Linked DNA regions of Homo sapiens: regions 1, 2, 3, 4 and 6 are each reported to be linked to region 5. The links are microRNA targets in miRTarBase. Many come from high-throughput screens and were not tested one by one. Region 5 holds a microRNA gene; each other region holds the end of a gene's coding sequence. Distances are between the middles of the regions.

Region 1 (3,125 bases), not on the chromosome of region 5:
AACACAAAACCTTGTTTTCGAAAGATGAGGTTTGCAGTTCATTAATGATCATAATCTTTTGTAAGCTGGTTTCTTTGGTGTATTTGCCAAATATATTTTTATAAAGGTTTAGTAATAGGCTTAAATAATAAATTTCAAAGGAAACATAAAAGAATCTGACAAATTTGAAAATATTCTGAACATTTTCTGTTCTGTTTCTGGAAAAAACAATCGGTTGATTTTTCTGAAAATATCTGTTCTCCCTATTCATTATGTGACCATGGAATGCTTCTCTGTGAATCCAATTCAAATGCAGACCTGCAGGTGTCACCACTATCATCTACCAGTAACCCACCTGGAGACATTTTAGTTATTGTGAAATGTGATTGGGATTTTATTAACAACAAAAATAAAACATTCTTTTTAAGCTTCCAGATAAATCAAACCTCAAACAATAAATAATGGAATTATACACTTCTTCATTAAATAGAAATTTCAAAATTCCAGGAAGAGCTCTCATAATTTTTTTTTTCTGAAGTCACAGCAGCAATACAGAACAAAGAATTTACCTTAATCTGATCTTTTTACGTGGAATTCCCTGACTCAAACTCAGTGGCTTAGTTTGGAAACCTCTGAATGGCTGGGGAGAGAAAATCTTTTGAAACTAAGTGAATAAATTAACACACACATACGTGGAAATCAGCCCTTGTGCAAGTGTAACATGAACATCACTGATGAGAGTGCAGAAACTCCAGGCACCCCTCTGCCTCCTCCTATCCCTGGGCCTGGGGTTGTAGGGAGAAGTCACACTCAATTCATTTCTAGCCACACCATGTCCCTAACAGTGCTAGTGTGAACTAGCCCTGACCTGGGTATTGGTTTAAAGAATGAGAATACAGCTTGGCAACTGTCTTCATAAGGGACTCTCTCTGGAGATAACTTTTTGGAACATTTTTATGGGGAAGAGGACAGACTACCCGTTCCTATCCATCAGGCTCCAGCTAGTTTGGGGATGGTTATAGAACTGGCCACACTCAGAGTGGCTGCCTGCGAAAGAGTCTATGCCAAAGAGTCTATGGGCCACACCAGCAATCTCCCGAATAATCCTCTTCTCTGAAGCTGCCCGTCTTCGGAAACCTGTGCAATGCTTAGGCACAAGCAGATCAGAGTCTAAGAGCAAACGCTGTGCTTGAGAAAACAGCACTGCTGGCTCTGAAAAAGGTGAAGCCAGAGAAAACTCCTAGTTCTGCTTAGTTACACTTCTGGGTGAAACAGTTTTACACTTCATGACTTAAATCTAGAAATTCAGACGAGAGAAGCCCTTCGTCTTGTAAACTTCTGATAACAAATTTATTAACAGTGTGTTAAATATTTTTTCCCAAAGCACTAAGAACGATACTGGGACATTTGAAAAGGTTCTTCTGAAGTTAATAACACAAATCAAGCCAGAATACGTTTCTGAGGGCATCCTCTTAGATGCCTAATGCCTCTGGGACCTTTTCCATTGTTACTGACACTTTATCATATCCGTGTTTACACGGCAAACATATGCCCAATCAACCCAGAAAATAATTGTCCTGAAGAGCCTCACTGTATATAACCTTAAAATGGGAAATGTTTAATTAGCATATTAGAAATTAGCCAGACTTATAAATGTGTACCCCTTAAAGATTTTACGCTTAAAAAGTTTTTTTTTTAAACTGGGAAGAAAAGAAACACCATGAAGCCACCCCAAATTATTGAACCATTAAAGCCAAATGATTTAACAATTTTTAAGGGAAGACTCGACCACCAGGGTACAAAATTTTCTGCTTAAAGTGAAGTCAAAGACATAGCTTCAGATGGAAATTGCAACTGACATACGATGGCTCTGCAGTGACAACTGAAGCGGCGGCTCCTGTCCTCACGGGCATGTCAAAGCTGGCTGTGAAATGACGACCAGCAAGTGAAATAATGGATAAAATACACCAGAAGGAGTATTGCACTGCAGGCACAGTTTTAAAAACAGAATACACTGGCTTCACAAAGTTATTTTCTTTCCCGTTAATTTTTTTAAAAGTACAACTCTAACTAGAGATAGAAATCGAGATGCAGTGTCTCAGGGTAGTGTACTACAGTTGTTAAAAAAAAAATAAGTTAAAAACAAGAGCACAGCAAAAGAAAAGCAGAGGTACTGGATTTATGTCATAAGCAGAGATACTGGATTTATGTCATCCGAAAGCTACATTAATTAGGAAAAAGAACAGTTTGAAACGGCCAGTTTGTACTCATTAAAAATGAATGAGGTGACAGCGTTACTTCAAACATTTCTTAGGGCATTTTCCAAAAGAACCCAGGGTCGCCCTGGGTGAAACTGTGCCTCCAAACGTTAACAAGTGCTCTGCTGGTTTAGAATACCGTGCTTACCAAGGAACCATAAATTTGGAAAGGGTAAATTCTCCACTCTAAACCTGCTTGTGTCATTTAAGAAAAGACAATTTTTCTAAATGCAGTATTGTATACAAAGCTTGGACCTCTTAAACTTGGACCAAGAAACCAAATTAAGACCTTCAAGCATGTGGTGTGTGTTTTTATATATATATAAAAAATCCCTCCCCTACAATGAAAACCAACCAAACAAACAGAAAACCCAAAAGTGTATACCTGCTTTCTGATTTCACAGCAAATCAGAAATTGCATAGGATATACTTTGTGCAAGGCAAAAAGCCTTTTAAGTATCTAGAATAGAACTCCTAATCTTGCTCACAGTTCTGGCATATCAGATATCATCAAATTTGTGTTTTAAGTAGTCTTTCATGACCTTGGCAATTGGTAGTTCATCAAGTAGCTTTAGGTTTTGAAGGCCTATACATTGTCGAATTTTAATTCGGCACAGGTCCTGCAAGTTTCTGGGCTGTCCTAAAAAGACAGAAAAAAGAAAATGTTACAAAGCCACAAAGCACAATATTTAAGGCACTTTTGAAAAGAACTGTTCATTTCCCTGGAAGTTCTCTCTATGGACTTGACATGCAAAGGACCGGAAAGATACCAACTCAAAGTGTCCTAGGACCTTCATGCGATGCCTTATTTGATCCTTTTCACAACCGTGGGATGGTGGATATTTTCAACTCCATTTTACCAATAAGAAAACTGAGTATCAGATGTAA
Region 2 (3,123 bases), not on the chromosome of region 5:
CTCAGCCTCCTGAGTAGTTGGGATCAATCACAGGCACGTGCCACCACGCCCTGCTAATTTTTGTATTTTTGGTAGAAATGGGGTTTCACCATTTTGGCTAGGCTGGTCTCCAACTTGTCACCTCAGGTGATCTGTCTGCCTCAGCCTCCCAAAGTGCTGGGATTACAGGCGTGAGCCACTGCACCCAGCCATGGTGGGTGTTTTGTAGGGAACAATTTCAAAAGGACTTCTGGTGGCAACCATTGAGCCTCTGGTTGACAGATATGGGTAAAATTATTCAGAAAACATATCTAAGACAGGATGTGGAGAATAGTACTGTCATCAGTTTATACTTTAATACCACATCTAACAATGTTTATGATAGGGTTGATCACTTCCATGAAGGCATCACAAGCCTTGCTGTGTGAAGGGCATCTGAATACATTTTAATATTTTATATCTGTTCTTCACACCTTAGCCCCTCACTCTGGAGAAAATAGTACATTTTCTTTCTTAAAATATGGTACACTTAAAGAAACCTCAAATGTGGATCTTTTCTTTGAAAGTAAAACTGAACAGGTCCTTCTGCCCACCTGCAGTCCCCAAGGAAAGAACACATGTTACGTTCATTGCCAATAATAGGTCCTTCAGTACTTGTTGAATGAAGAATACTTGTGTTTTTCCACTGGCCAACCAAGGTGGATCCTGAAAGTGGAACCCGGAGTTCTCTAATAACTAAATTAGTGTTTTTAGTAGCTCATTTTGAATCCCTAAGCTGTGACTTCAACTCTGAAAGGCTGGCTAACTCTGGGAGGTTACCTTCACTTAATTAAGTACAGCATTTCTTCCAAAGCGCATGCAGTGCTTTATGTAAATTCTCTCTCCTGGATTTGTGTGACGTAGCAGGGTTAGAATGGTGAGACAGATGCCTGGTTTTGGAGTCATAAGACTGGCTTTGCCACCTAGCATCTGTGTGGTCTTAGGCCAGCCAACTTTTCTTTTTTTTTGAGATGGAGTCTCACTCTGTTGCCAGATTGGAGTGCAGTGGCATAATCTCGGCTCACTGTGCAACCTCCGCCTACTGGGTTCAAGTGATTCTCCTGCCTCAGCCTCCCAAGTAGCTGGGACTACAGGTGCTCACCACCACACCAAGCTAATTTTTATATTTTTAGTAGAGACAGGGTTTCACCATGTTGGCCAGGATGGTCTCGATCTCTTGACCTCATGATCCACCCGCCTCGGCCTCCAAAAGTGCTGGGATTACAGGCGTGAGCCACCGCGCCCTGCTAGGCCAGCCAGCTTTTCTGAAAGACCTCATGCTCTTACACATTACAAGCGGTTGTGAGAATCAAATGAGATAGGGTGCATCTCAGAATCTGAAAAATACTATGCACACGGAAAGTATTATTTGGTCTCTAAGGCCCATCAACTTGGTCCTAACTCACTTTTATCAGTTTGTAGAACTTAATCTTTTTAAGTTCTCCGTATTTTTTTATGCTTTCATTTTTTAATGTGCTACCCTCTCTACCTGGGATGTGCTTTTTCTACAGGGCAAGCTCTGCATTTCCCCTCCTCTCCTTTTTCTCATCGTGGTTTGTACTTGCCTCTCAGCACCCATCACACTGGATGTAACTACAGGCATGTCTCTCCTGTTTGACTGTAAACTCCTTGCTGGACACATATCTCAGGAGTCCTTACAGCCATTTCAGTGCTGTTGCAAAGTGGATATTTAATAAATATTTGTTGAAGGAAGTCTGTTTGCTTGTTTTTGAGACAGAGTCTTGCTCTGTCACCTAGGCTGGAGTACAGTGGCATGATCTGGGCTCACTGCAAGCTCCCCTACCGGGTTCATGCCATTCTCTTGCCTCAGCCTCCCGAGTAGCTGGAACTACAGGCGCCCGCCACCACACCCGGCTAATTTTTTGTATTTTCAGTAGAGACGGGGTTTCACCATGTTAGCCAGGATGGTCTTGATCTCCTGACCCCGTGATCTGCCTGCCTCGGCCTCCCAAAGTGCTAGGATTATAGGCGCGGTGAAGGAAGTTTTTTTAAAAAAAGAACAGATCCAGAAGCAAGATTAGGGTATCAAGATTTTACATTACTAATTCTGAATTCGTTATCCTTTGCTTTCAGCCATATTAAAACTGAAAGCCTTCCATACCTGACGTTTTTCTATCTCATTATACAGCTTTCCTGTCAGATCTTCTTTTAGGGTGACTTTGAAGAATCAGAACATCAGGGCTCCAACTCTCAGTAGAGCCAGTAACCAGCTTCCTGATTTAAAAAAAAATCACCTTTGGCCTAATTTTGTCACTTATAAACAGTGGTATTGCAGTACCCTGGTATGATTAGTTATGATATGTTTAACAATAATTTTAAAATACCAAAGCTTGTGAATTATTTTACTTTCAAAAAATATGTAAGTTAGAATTGTAATTCTAAAGGCACTGTCGTTTGCTTACACATTCTAACATATTTCTAATAAGAAAGTACCTGCTTTCTTAAGAGAAAAAGGGATAAGTTACCAAAAGCAGCACGTTCTCCTGGGCTCATACCCCGGATTCATCCATGAGGCCACTTCCATTGTAAAGCTTTTAGCATCTCTTGATTTCTCTTGACACTGAGGCACAAAGGCCTGCTACTTATAGGCATTACTTCATTTTTCCTTATGAAGGGTACTATACCAACACAGACTTTATAGTATGTTTAAAAATCCCAACTGCAAGATACACAGGATGCTGTAGGCCTGATTTCCTGTTGTAGAACCTCCAGCCCTGTGTTGAATGAGGAGGTGCAAATATATAGACCCTTAAGATCAGACCACAGCAGGCATTCAGGTGGAGGGGATGAACTCCATTCATTCCAGCTGTGCAGTGGGACATCTGCGCCCTCCGCATCTCGGCTCATTCCTCATCTGAGCCACTCAAGAGGGCGGTCTGGTAAGTGTCATCTGAATTCAGCTTCTGAATTCCAATGATTTCTCCCCTTCCGTGTCTCTTCATCCGAGTCAAAAGGCTTTAATAGAGAAAGAGTAAGAGCCAATTAGCCAGAGATTCCCTTAATCCATTACCAAGGATGTGAAGGCATCTACTGATTCTTAAACTATTTTCTTTATATTTCTATCAAATACTGTGATTACATGTC
Region 3 (3,000 bases), 6.8 Mb from region 5:
CAATGTGGCCCACGCTTTTTAAAAAATTGACGTGTTGGCAGTGTTTGTTAGAACATTGACGTACATCCCAAATAGTAATAAATTCAGTATGAAATTATACGCATAACCTTACTCACCATACTACTTTTTCTCCCAAACTATTGTGACTTCTTTTTGCTCTCTGATTAAAACAAACAGGTAACATCCTTACACCTTTGCTCCATCCCTTGGGCTTTAAAAAGAATGGCTGTAGTTAGTTTTGATTCACTATATACTCTCTGTACTTGAGGAAGAGTAAGCTGTGTTTAAAAGTGCCCTTTTCCATGTCGTCATGTACCAATACCCTCTGCATTTCAAAATGTTGACTCAGATGTTTTTCCCTCTACAGAACTAGAAAATTGTCCCCCCACTTTGGTCTATTTACTCATTTGAAGACAAACAGGGTTACTAAGAGTTTTACATAAGTTATTTCTTTAGAGTGACGAAGTGTTAGTTTACTTCTTGCTTAGTGGAGACAAAAATTGTGAGATAAAGAGGAAGGAATAGGATGTACACATTTACCCATCAATATAGCACCCAGTGTTATTTCAGCAGGACCCTTCTGTTAGCATCTAAGGTAAGGTTAGGACAGTCAAGATAAAATACTGGATGTTGGCCAGGAGCAGTGGCTCAAGCCTGTAATCCCAGCACTTTGGGAGGCTGAGGCAGGCAGATCATGAGGTCAGGAGATCAAGACCATCCTGGCTAACACAGTGAAACCCTGTCTCTACTAAAAATACAAAAAGTTAGTTAGTTAGTTAGCCAGGCGTGGTGGTGGGTGCCTGTAGTCCCAGCCATTCGGGAGGTTGAGGCAGGAGAATGGTGTGAACCTGGGAGGCAGAGCTTGCAGTGAGATTGCACCACTGTACTCCAGCTTGGGCGACAGAGCGAGACTCCATCTCCAAAAAAAAACAAAACAACAACAACAAAAAAAAAACACTGTATGTTAAGGGAGACTCCTTCAGTATCTAAGAGCACTTGGGGGTGGACTGGGGGAGAAGGGATGACTTCATTTACCCCCATAGTTATGGAGTCTTGAGTTCTAAGAAAATTTTCATCCCTATTGATTTTTATGCTAAAAACAGAATCTTACAAATGTGATAGCTATATATCCAAATGAGGTGGTCTAGTACAAGCATTTCTGAAAAAATTTTTGAATGACAAAATTTTATCCTAAGCGATATGTTTTCCAAGTGAATATAATTCTAGTTTAACACAACATTGCAAGTCAGGTGTGCACATTTTACTAACAAACATATATCAATGTGATTTCAGGGCCTTCTCCAGAAGCAAAAGGAGTTGGAAAGTAGTCTCCTGCCTTTAGCTGAAAATCAAGAAGAGAGTTTTGGTTCTTCATTTTAAATGTAGAAAATCAAATCCTTCACATTTGATTTGTGTCTTCCAAATTATAAAATGTGCTCACTGGCTCAACTGTATTTTTCAAATAGCCTAGATTTACTTATTTTTTTAAATGCTCATTAAAAACTTGTATACTATGTAGTAAAATGCTGTACTTGTTCTATACAATAAAACAGATACTTCTTTTGTAAAAGCTTAGTAGTAAAAAAAAAAAAAAAAAAACCGGTTCTTCTGCTCTGTCACCACCTGGGTATTGAAGCCCTATAAAAACACTTTCTACTTACCTTAATATAGTCTGGCGTTGCTGGGACCTCACAGTGTTCTTTCACACTTTTTATGTAACTTAGGAACTGAAATACCACTCATGCATTTGTTCTAAAGTGCCAAAGTTCTGTCTAACTTATTAACACGTCTAGACCCATAACTCCATAACTTTTACTGAAATAACACAAATTCAGTTTAGGCTCCTTCTCTAAATCCTGACATTTATTTGCACTATGACATTTATTTGTAGAAATTGCAATTTTCAAAAACATTTTTAAAAGTTAGCATTAGTAACAAGTTAGTAATTAGTATTAGAGGCAGTAGTTAGGAATAGATACGGGTTTGAAAGCTATCTCCACTGTATCTGTCTAGTATAGCATTAATGTGTTCAACAAATGGTAATTACTACTAAGACCACCTCAAAAATATATTCCCATTATACTTCCATTTTGCTAAAACTAATTTAAAAATCAAATTGTTCAACGCCTTTGATAAACAGAAGCCTATCTTTTGAAATAAAAAATTTAATTTCATTAAATCAAGGATTGCGCAGGTACTGAAAATTATCCAATACTCTCAAAAAGTTACCAGAATTTTAGCAATAGGCAGTTTTTACATGACTAAGCCTAGAGATAAAAAATGTGTCCTATGTACATAGTTTATTATCTAAATGAAACTGCACTGTTAGATAAATCTTGAGGTATCGAGCCAAAATCCTGTAAATATTAACACTGCTATTACTGACTTATACCTGTGTAAACACAGTATACAAAAGCCTACATCAAAATAATTCACTTCAACAAAAGTACTTTATATCAGGTGACATTAGAGAAAAAGAAGTAAAGCCTTTGCTGTTTACCGTCCTCCTGCAAGCATCTGATTTTACACATAAAACAGGCTTCAATTTGAAGCCTAAGTACAGGTAACATACAAAAAGTAAAACTTAGAAGTGCCAACATGAGATAATTCAAGTACAATATATGTTAAAAATATATATTTATTTCAATTTTTAGATGCTTCAACTGTTACAGGCCATCATGATTTAAATAAAAGAAAAAACATTTGAGAAAGAACAAGAACCTTTTGTTTAGAGAATGAAATATAAATTGTTAATAAACAAAGTCCACAACAATCTCTTAAAAAAAAAGTTACTACAGTTATTTCTCTTGTGAATATGGCCTGGAAGAATCACTTTTCCCCCAACTTAAGGGAGGTGGAGATTTATCTCTATCCAAGCTTTCAGTATAAGCAGATAAGAAGTAATTCTCATTTTCTTGAGACTGACTTGATGAAAGGGCATATGGTGTCCCCAAAAATGTCTGATGAGTGAGAACATTAAAATGACTAAACTGATGGGAC
Region 4 (3,125 bases), not on the chromosome of region 5:
CTATTATACCCAATCTGTTTGATATGTAAGTTTAATATGTGGTTAATGCAAAACAGTTAGCTAATATACTATTTATTTTAAGCAAATGTATCACATAATTATCACAGACTCAGAAAATGGTTCTTCTCTGTGCTGTGTTGCCATAGAACCCTTTTTGTGTGTCTCTTTTTTATATATTTCTCACTTAGGCTACAGAGGACAGAAGGGAGAAAGAGGTGAACCTGGAATTGGGCTGCCAGGGAGTCCAGGTCTTCCTGGGACTTCAGGTAAGTGGGATATTGTCTTCACAACACAAGCAAGCCTTTACAAATTAGAACCATGCTTCTCCCCTAGGGTCCTTATATGTCAAGTCGAGTGATCCATGTTGGCTAGAGGGTGGGAGAGAGGAAGGGCCATATGTGATCTGCATTGTAATTTTTTTTTTATGTCGTTAGCTCTGGGTTTGCCAGGCTCACCAGGTGCCCCAGGCCCACAGGGCCCCCCAGGACCCAGTGGAAGATGTAACCCAGAAGATTGCCTCTATCCTGTGTCTCATGCCCATCAGCGCACAGGTGGGAATTGAACACACCTGAAGAAGACTTGGTTCCTGGTAACATTTCCTTGCCACTGGAGCTCTCTTAATACCGTCAAACCCTCATCATCTGTGGGTTGCTTTTTTTTTTTTTTTTTTTTTTTGGGAGTAAGCCAGGCATTAAAAGCAACCGTTTGAATCCTATTCCTATAGCAATTGCAAATCAGCATTTTTTGATTTTTCCCAAATTCATTCCATATGTTTTGCTTTACAATTGCTATGATTTTTACTCAGAGTTTTATATGAAATATGCAAGTAAATCTTATCGTTAGTTCTTCTTCAAAAGGAAATTGCATCTTGTGACTTAGTAGACTGATGATGATATCCATTTTGTAGACTCATCAACATGTGGTTGGCCTTTGATTTCTGAATTTTAAAGTTTCAGACTTATCTTTTCCTTGGTGTTTAAATTTACTATCATTGCTAAACATCTCGTCAACTTTTTTGATATAGTGCATTGCTCCTGTTGAATGTTTTTTGACTACTTTTTATAACTTAAGAATTTTTATACCATCTACATCTATCCTACTTATGCAGAAAAATAGGCAATAAGAACTTCATTTTACAATTTATGTTTTCAAAAAAAAAATGCAGGAAACTGTTTTATCAGGGAGCCCAAACACCCAGCATAGCCAACTACTGAAATGATTTTGTTAATTCTGTATAATGAGCTCAATTCAAAGCAATCACCACTGGCATGAATAAGTACTGCATGAAAAGGGAGTATCAAATTCCAGTTTTGTATGAGTTCTGCAAAAAAAGCCTAATATTCTGTGGTCCCCTCACTCAGTCTCTCATTTGGTAAACAGAAAGCTGTTTTCCCTACAAGGTGCTTGGTGGTGAAGCCACCAAGCTGTCTTTGGTACTCTTAAAGCTTCAGTGGCCTAGCAAGATCTTTGGGCCCTTGTATCCATTATCCTTATGACCTCATCACCCTCAGACTTTAAGACAAGAAGCCACCATCAAAACAAAGGATGGGATACGTATAGAATGGACTCACTTGTCCTAGAAGATGAATGTGTAGTGTCAGCAAATGCATGTTAAGAAGGTGAAGCCCAAAAGCTCTTAAGGAGAATTGTATTTCTCCAGAAGCTGCAGCAAGAGGTACAGCTCAACAAAGGAAAACCACAGGACTGGATATGCAACTAGTGCTCAGACCAAAGAGTTCACACCCACTCTAAAACCATGTCCTCTGAAAAGAAACAAAAATACAGTGATCATCAAATGCCTAAACAGTCTTTCTGTTGGTTAGCTGTACATTCATTGAGGAACTGTTGATTGGCAGGCACTGATTCTCTAGAACACTGGGCATGAGGATGTTGCAGAAATCTAGATGGTGGGTCCCACAGATGTGAGAACATGCTGCAAGAGCCTGCCAGCCACAGCAATCAGGACTCACAGCTCTTCAAGGAGCAGTGCAGATTTCAATTTGGCTAAAACAGGATGATTGCTTTTGTCTGTTTACTGAAAAATGAGTTTAGAAAGGCTAGCCCACTGACATTGGAAAAAGCTGTGAACAGAGTTGTGTCTGAGGAATGTGCCTAATTTAAGGCAGGGTTTGTTCCAATGCATCCGTGATTTGAACCGGTTTTCATTATAGATTAATGAACTGCTGGTCAGGTACTGTCTACAATGGCTGTGCATACCTATAACATTTTAGGTATTTCATATTGAATTATGCTGTATATTTCAATTCCAAGTTTATTTATTTTCCAAGGTTATTTTATTTATTGTAAGCATTTTGACATTGATTTTTTTTTTTTCGTTTTCTTTCTTGTGCAATACCTACAATGGTGCTGTGTTTTAAACTTACACAATTGGGACATACGTATGTGTTTTCTTAGTAAAATGGTAATTTATCCCGAAAAAGTGTACATAGATCTAAAATTTGGTGCTATGTGTATATCTTGAGCTTTTAATTTGTTGAATTTTCTAAACGCTTACAACTTATCTGCCACTCATATTAATTTACTTGAATTTGTCATAAAGCTAAATATTTTATATGTTTTCAAAGATTATTTTTTCATATTAATAGGTTGTTTATCTTTTTGCCTGTTTGCTAATTTAAAAATATTTATTTTATCATTTTAATGTTTTCATGGACTTTTTTGCTGATGGTAATCAACTTTTTTTGTTTTTTGGTTTTTGAGTTGTTCTTGTCATAGACATAAAAAGACAATTCATTTTCTTGTTTTATTAACTCTGTTCATTTTTATTCTACAAAATATGTCATGCATTCTTTCTTATGAATTGTATATTTAGAAATCTTTCTAAATACCATTAAGGCTTGACTGGTTAATTCCTATTTCAAGGATTTGGATTTATTCAGGTAATTTGATGGGATGGGGAAATATAATATTGTGTGATGCATATTACAAAGTGGACTTGTCACAATGACACAAACTCATTTTTTGTAACTGGGAAATATGACTAAATTTGACGTAACTAGAGAAACAAGGCTGTATCCACATGGTACAAGCCTTTCTCACCCTACTCTATTATTTACCTTCAGATACTTTTTCCTGCCTCAGCTCTGTACACATGATATGCAACA
Region 5 (3,125 bases):
CCACAGCTACCTACATCTGGCTGAAAACTACCTCATCCGCTATATGCCTTTTGCCCCAGCCATCCAGACGGTGAGCCCATGATACCCCACCCTTAGCCCTACTAGGCCTGGGTTTCCCCTGCACCTGCCCATACAGGCCCCAATCTAGCTGCCGGCTCTCACTGAAACTCAGACTGTGCAGAAGTCCTGAAGACTCCCTCCAGCCCTCTTCCTGCTATGAAGCCAGGCTGGGACCTGTCAGACACAGGAAGCAGCCGTCAGCCATCCCCACCCCCAATCCTCCAAAGCCCAGGATCTGGGGGAGCTGCAGCTTTAACTCATTAGTGGAGCCAGACATCCCCCACAGTCCCCTCCTTCCTTGGAGTACCCCTGAGGGGTAGGTAGTGGGGAGGGGACCAGGGCATCAGCCCCAGAAAGAGTCTAGCTTCCCCCTGCATGGTACGGGGGCCCTGGCCTACCTCCTACAAGCTGAGTTAAAAGGTAATAGGCTTGCCACTAGAGGTGTGGGGTCTGCAGCCCTGAGTGTATTTGTGTCACAGTTGTGAGTGCAACTGGGGTCTGGGCATCCCCGGAGTGTGGGTATGGAAGGAGCAAGTTTGCACATCTGTGCATCAGATGGGAGTGCAGGGCTCCCATCTTCCTGTGTCCTCAATGTGGGCATGCATGGAGATGCATGTGGGCACACATGTGTGTGTTCCTGGGCTTGTGGGCATTTGTGTTCCTGTGACTGCAGCGCTGTGAATGCCTCCAGCCTTGTGCCCAGGCTCTGCAGTTGGCATTTCCTTGGGGCAAGGATGAGGGTAGAAGGAATGCCCTCATGAGGGGAGAGGGCAGAGGTCATGGGCCAGCACTGGGTTTCTGCTGAGCAGCCTGGGGTCCCTCTGGACTAGCACACAGAGCCCCTTTGTGAGGCACCCTGCCTCTAACCAGCATACAGGCTGCCTTTGTCCACAGAGTGAAGCAGGTGAAGGAGAAGCCCCCATCTCACCTCTAGCCTAGTCTCAGCTTGACCCCAGTGTGTTTTCTCAGGGGCTGATAAGCACCCCCTGTCCTGGTCTCTAGATACCTGCCAGCCATCCTTCTGTCCTTAGCTCTAGGTCCCAGAACCCCAAGACTCTTGGAAGGAAGGAAGGGACAGGAGGAGGAAGCCTCTATGCATTGTATCCCTGCTGGGGTCTCTGGGACAGTGGGGCCCTGGTGGTCACTGTGCCCTTTGCCCCTGTGTCCCAATGAGTAGCCCAAGGCACTGGCAGTACATACAAGATTGGGGGACAGGATGTGCCCCCCAGCTCCCAGCCTTGTCTTTGAGGAACAAGCAGCTTTATCAGAGGCTGCAGGGGCCCTGCTCTGGGTTTCCTCAGGAAGCACCACCCCCTCATCCCCCACTCTCACAACTGGCCCATGTGATGGATCGTCTGTTTCCCTGTGCGGGCCCCATAGCCCCATTTCCTGTGCTGGCCCCGGCCTGGACGGGGAGGGGGCTGAGACTCTGGGCCCAGATCCCACCTCCCCCCCACCCCCCACCCCCTGGCTCCTGTTTCCTGCTAGTCCAGCTCTTCCCCTAGGAAAGGCTGCTGGTAACTGGGATGGGGGTTGGGGGGAGGTAAGAAGTCTCTGACTCCTCCTCTACCTCATCCCAGTTCCATCACCTGAAGTGGACCTCTTGGGACCGTCTGAAGGTACCAGCTGGGCAGCCTGAGAGGACCCTGGAGTCGCTGCTGGCTCATCTTCAGGTGTGCCCTGTTGCTACCCCAACCCCCAGGCTCAGCCCAGCCCGGCCCAGCTGGTGTCTGACCTTTCTCCTCTAGGAGCAGCACGGGTTGAGGGTGAGGATCCTGCTGCACGGCTCAGCCCTGCTCTATGCGGCCGGATGGTCACCTGAAAAGCAGGCCCAGCACCTGCCCCTCAGGTGAGCCCACTTGGGGCTTTAGACAGGCCCCACCAGTCCCTGGAGGCTGGGGCTAGGGACCACACTGCCTTTTGTCTTCCCAGCCCCATTCTGGGCCCCTCACACCTTCCCAAGCATTCTTTCCCCAAATGGAGCCAGCAAACAGGCTGGAGGTGGGGTGAGGGCCGAGAGCCTGAGGAGGAGTCTTCAGGAGCTGCCTATTTGGCCAGCCCCATGGGCTCCCCACATGCTGCACAGCCCCCCTTTCACAGCCCACTCCCAAGGGACCCATAGCTTCCTGCCTCCTGCTTGCCTCATCAGCTGCTCCTAAAATAGTTTCAGATGTTTCCTGTCTTGAGCAGCTCCTGCTCCTGGCTTGGGCTCCTGACGGCCTGCCAGCACCCTCTCTAGTCCATGCCAGGCTGCCTTCTGCTTGCCATGGCTCACCTCTCCAATCTCCCCTAAACCCACCCCTACCAGGGTGACAGAACTGGTTCAGCAGCTGACAGGCCAGGCACCTGCTCCTGGGCAGCGGGTGTTGGTGCTAGAGCTGAGCTGTGAGGGTGACGACGAGGACACTGCCTTCCCACCTCTGCACTATGAGCTGTGACAAGGCAGCCACCCTGTCACCTAGCTCAATGGAGCCCCGGATCCCAAGCCCTGCATTGTAAGCCCACAGTAGGCACTCAATAAATGCTTGTTAAAGGAAGGCATTGCAGAGAGGATGGACGATAGAAAACAGTGCACTAATGCACACGGGTGTGACATGGGCATGACAGGGACCTTCACACAGAGAAAAAAAGCTCTTCAGAAGATTTGTCTCCCTGGGCAGTGCCTCACAGGGCTGGGGCTGCCTCTTAGTGCCTCAGGGGTATGGAGCCAGGACAGTCTAGAAAAAAGGCTTTTATTGTCCCAGGCTGGAGGGCAGGGTCAGAGGTAGCTGACATCATTGCAGATGATGGGCTGGCGGCTACGACAGCTCATGAGAGCTGCAAAGCGTGAGACATCCGCAGGCAGTTCAGGTTCTGGGCGAGGTGGGCATGACAGCCGCTTTCCTGCCATAGCTGTCCGCCGAGCCCTGGCCAGCCGGCGCCGAAGCTGCTCAGAGAGGCCAAGCAGGAACTGAGGGGGCCGAGCACGGGCACGGTGCCCACCTCCGTCACCCCCTTCACTCCCTGTCTCAGGCAGCTCCATCCAGTTGTGCACCAAGTCAGCAAAGCAATTGTCCCCTAGTACC
Region 6 (3,125 bases), not on the chromosome of region 5:
CAAATGTAAAACATACCCAATACAAAACCTGGTCACTGTGATCACTATAAATTCCAAACGCTTTTCCTCACTCTTATTCTTTTCTTGTAAAGAGGCTATTCCAATCCCCTGCAGTTTCTGTTATCAAAGGCAAGATATACAAGGACAGTAGGTCCTGTCTGTTCTCTTCAACATGGCACATACAGCACCTTGGACAGTGCCTGATACAGGACATTGCTCAATAAATACATCAGCAATGAAGAAAAAAGAAATAAAAGAAAAGCCAGTTTGGGGACTGGAATGAGAGGTAGGAGTGAGGAACAGAAAATAAAACAAATATAATTGAAATAATACTGGGAAAACATCACTCATGTTGTCAAATCAGAAAAAAATTTAAGCTGAGAACAATGCATTATTTTTCTTTAATACTTTACCAAAGGGTGAACAGCCATATCTCAGGCTGTATGCAACATTAAATTCCAAAATAATTTCTAGTAATTTAAAAATAGCATTGAAGAATAATTTTTTGAAGTACAATATTTTGTTTTTTGAGAGGAAGTCTCCCTCTTGTCCTCCAGGCTGGAGTGCAATGGCGCAATCTCAGCTCACTGCAACCTCCGCCTCCCGGGTTCAAGCGATTCTCCTGCCTCAGCCTCCCGAGTAGCTGGGATTACAGACATGCGCCACCATGCCCAGCTGATTTTTGTATTTTAGTAGAGATGGGTTTTCACCATGTTGGCCAGGCTGGTCTTGAACTCCTGACCTCAAGTGGTCTTCCTGCCTCAGCCTCCCAAAGTGCTGAGATTAACAGGCGTGACCCACCGTGCCTGGCCTGAAGTACAATTTTTTAACTTGCTACTATTATGTAAAAAAACACTAAGTTGGAAAAAATTTATATAATGAATTCATTTGGGTAAAAATTTATACATAAAAAATTTCTGCAAGAATGTAAACTATTAATCATTTTCCCTGGGAAGAACTGAGGGGCCTAATGCAGAAAGGGAGCTTTTATTAGTTACTTATATGCTTTTGTACTATTTGAATTTTTTGTTTTTACAATCAATATGTACATTTTATAATAAAACTCATTTAAAGGGAAAATGTCCAGTTTGTATTTGTGAAACACTCAGGTAGAAACTTAGAAATTGCAATCTCTTATAATATATTGATTGTTGATAATATTAAAGTTTGCGTTTTCTGTTTTATAGAGAGCCAGGGTCTTGCTATGTTGCTCAGGCATGAACTCCTGGGCTCAAGCAATCCTCCCGCCTTGGCATCCCAAAGTGCTAGGATTACAGGCATGTACCGCTATGTCTGGCCTGCACCACCATGCCTGGCCTGCACTTGCTATTTATTCTCTCTTTACTAAAATAAGAAAGTGGGAAATTAAATAGATTATGACAAAAGAAAGTGAAATAGACTAGGACAAAAGAAAAATGAAACAATATAGATCAGTCTCCTCCAATTCAGGAAAAAATACTATTACATTCAAGAAACGAAAATTTTCCAAAAGCTCAAATCATAAACAGCTATCTTCTAGTTTCTGTCATATCTTTACTATCATTGAACATGTATTCAAATTTAGGGTTTTAAGGTCTCCACAAAAGATAACTATTATATATTTAGTGCAACCAGGTACAAGACAGGCTCAAAAACAAACAAAACTGAATTGCTCATTCTAATAATAATCTAGAGAATCCTTCCACATAAATTTAAAAAATGATCTCAATAGGGACATCCTAAGTAAAGGAATATCAGAGAATGTTATTACAGGTGGGCTGGCCATAAACTTGTAAAATGTAATTTTTTAGCTCTTTTTTTTTTTTGAGATGGAGTCTAGCTCTGTCACCCAGGCTGAAGTGCAGTGGCGCGACCTCGGGTTCATTGTATCCTCCACCTCCCGCGTTCAAGCAATTCTCCTGCCTCAGCCTCTTGAGTAGCTGGGGCTACAACAGGCATGCGCCACTATGCCTGGCTAATTTTTTATATTTTTAGTAGAGACGGGGTTTCGCCATGTTGGCCAGGCTGGTCTTGAACTCCTGACCTCAAGTGATCTGCCCTCCTCGGCCTCCGAAAAGTGCTGGGATTACAGGCATGAGCCACCATGCCTGGCCACTGGTTATTTTTTACTGTTGACATACTTAATTACAAAATAATAACTTTAAAAGGTATGGTTCTTCAATAATGACACATATATCAGAAGGTAATAATACTAAAAAAAAGATCTGTGAAAAAACTTTCAAAATAAAAAAATTAAATATAATTTTAAAAAATGACGTAGAAAAACTGGATTTATCATGTGTAACATGTTTTGAAATATCTATACATTGTGGAATGGCTCAATATAGCTAATTAACGTGCATTACCTTATGTGCTTTTTTGGAAAAACCACTTAAAATTTACTCAGTGACTTTCAAAATACATTGTTGTTAATTACAGTCACCAAGCTGTACAACAGATCTCTTGAACTCAGTTGCCTTGTCTAACTGAAATTTTGTAAATTTTGACCAATATCTCCTCAATCCTCCACTGCCCCACCAGCCCTTGATAACCACCATTCTATTCTCTCCTTCTATGAGTTCAACTTAAGATTCCACAGTGAGATTATGCAGCATTTGTCTTTCTAAGCCTGGCTTATTTTACTTAACATGTCCTCCAGGTTGTCACAGATGAAAGGATTTCCTTGTTTTTAAGCATTAAATACTGTTCCATCAATACCATTTTTAATATATTTAAATTATATCCATTTTGGAAGTAGTAACAGCATGCTTTGATGGTGGCTCAGTAGAAGACATTGTATCAGAAATCCACAAATTAAGCAACTGTTTCTTATGAAGTGCATCATTTTCCTGGTTGGCCTGTTCATCCAGTGACTTTCTTATACAATTCTTTAATTCTTCGATTCCTTCTCCAGTAACTGCAGATATGGGGATGATATGTTGGAACTCTACAGTCCTCTCTGGAATCATGTTTTTTTCAAATAAATGCAGAAAATCTAAAAGAAAGAGCACAAACAAAGCTGATTTCCATTGTTTTCGAAAGTTAGTTAAAACCATGTTAATGGTTTGATTTGTGAAGCAGGGAACCAACACCAGCATTTTTCATGCCTTTTTTCACCTTTTCTAATAAGTTCTCAGAGCCTTTGG

What was found. Region 5 holds the annotated microRNA hsa-miR-5193 (UCCUCCUCUACCUCAUCCCAGU, at 1,620-1,641, shown strand). A microRNA usually pairs through its seed, bases 2 to 8, with sites in the 3' UTR of a target mRNA and lowers its output. Matches are read on the target gene's strand: a 7mer-m8 pairs with bases 2 to 8, a 7mer-A1 pairs with bases 2 to 7 and ends in A, and an 8mer does both.
Region 1: the mRNA of ASB7 is a reported target of hsa-miR-5193. Seed matches in the 3' UTR shown: 7mer-A1 at 748-754 and 7mer-m8 at 746-752.
Region 2: miRTarBase lists TMEM45B as a target of hsa-miR-5193. The part of its 3' UTR that is shown has no 7-base or 8-base seed match.
Region 3: the mRNA of TASOR is a reported target of hsa-miR-5193. Seed matches in the 3' UTR shown: 7mer-A1 at 2,503-2,509.
Region 4: miRTarBase lists COL19A1 as a target of hsa-miR-5193. The part of its 3' UTR that is shown has no 7-base or 8-base seed match.
Region 6: miRTarBase lists GTPBP10 as a target of hsa-miR-5193. Seed matches in the 3' UTR shown: 7mer-m8 at 2,038-2,044.

The regions. Positions count from the first base shown.
Region 1 is chr15:100,648,075-100,651,199 of GRCh38, reverse strand. ASB7 (ankyrin repeat and SOCS box containing 7) reads right to left here. Exons shown (of 6, transcript NM_198243.3): 6 at 1-2,877. The coding sequence ends at 2,738. Among named protein-coding and RNA genes, the nearest start is that of ASB7, 47 kb to the right of the region's middle.
Region 2 is chr11:129,858,445-129,861,567 of GRCh38, reverse strand. It overlaps TMEM45B (transmembrane protein 45B), which reads right to left. Exons shown (of 6, transcript NM_138788.5): 6 at 1,565-2,994. The coding sequence ends at 2,883. Among named protein-coding and RNA genes, the nearest start is that of NFRKB, 36 kb to the left of the region's middle.
Region 3 is chr3:56,620,239-56,623,238 of GRCh38, forward strand. It overlaps TASOR (transcription activation suppressor), which reads right to left. Exons shown (of 24, transcript NM_001365635.2): 24 at 1-3,000. The coding sequence ends at 2,799. CCDC66 (coiled-coil domain containing 66) reads left to right here. Exons shown (of 18, transcript NM_001141947.3): 18 at 1,294-1,599. The coding sequence ends at 1,380. Among named protein-coding and RNA genes, the nearest start is that of TASOR, 62 kb to the right of the region's middle.
Region 4 is chr6:70,206,713-70,209,837 of GRCh38, forward strand. It overlaps COL19A1 (collagen type XIX alpha 1 chain), which reads left to right. Exons shown (of 51, transcript NM_001858.6): 50 at 189-266; 51 at 435-3,125. The coding sequence ends at 562. Among named protein-coding and RNA genes, the nearest start is that of COL9A1, 95 kb to the right of the region's middle.
Region 5 is chr3:49,804,681-49,807,805 of GRCh38, reverse strand. MIR5193 (microRNA 5193) reads left to right here and starts at 1,561; the gene lies at 1,561-1,669. INKA1 (inka box actin regulator 1) reads right to left here. Exons shown (of 2, transcript NM_203370.2): 2 at 2,776-3,125. The coding sequence ends at 2,819. UBA7 (ubiquitin like modifier activating enzyme 7) reads left to right here. Exons shown (of 24, transcript NM_003335.3): 21 at 1-70; 22 at 1,641-1,733; 23 at 1,809-1,909; 24 at 2,369-2,597. The coding sequence ends at 2,498. RefSeq lists enhancers at 1-29, 130-299, 1-400, 1,030-1,309, 1,296-1,590.
Region 6 is chr7:90,384,741-90,387,865 of GRCh38, reverse strand. It overlaps GTPBP10 (GTP binding protein 10), which reads right to left. Exons shown (of 10, transcript NM_033107.4): 10 at 1-2,974. The coding sequence ends at 2,712. Among named protein-coding and RNA genes, the nearest start is that of CLDN12, 17 kb to the left of the region's middle.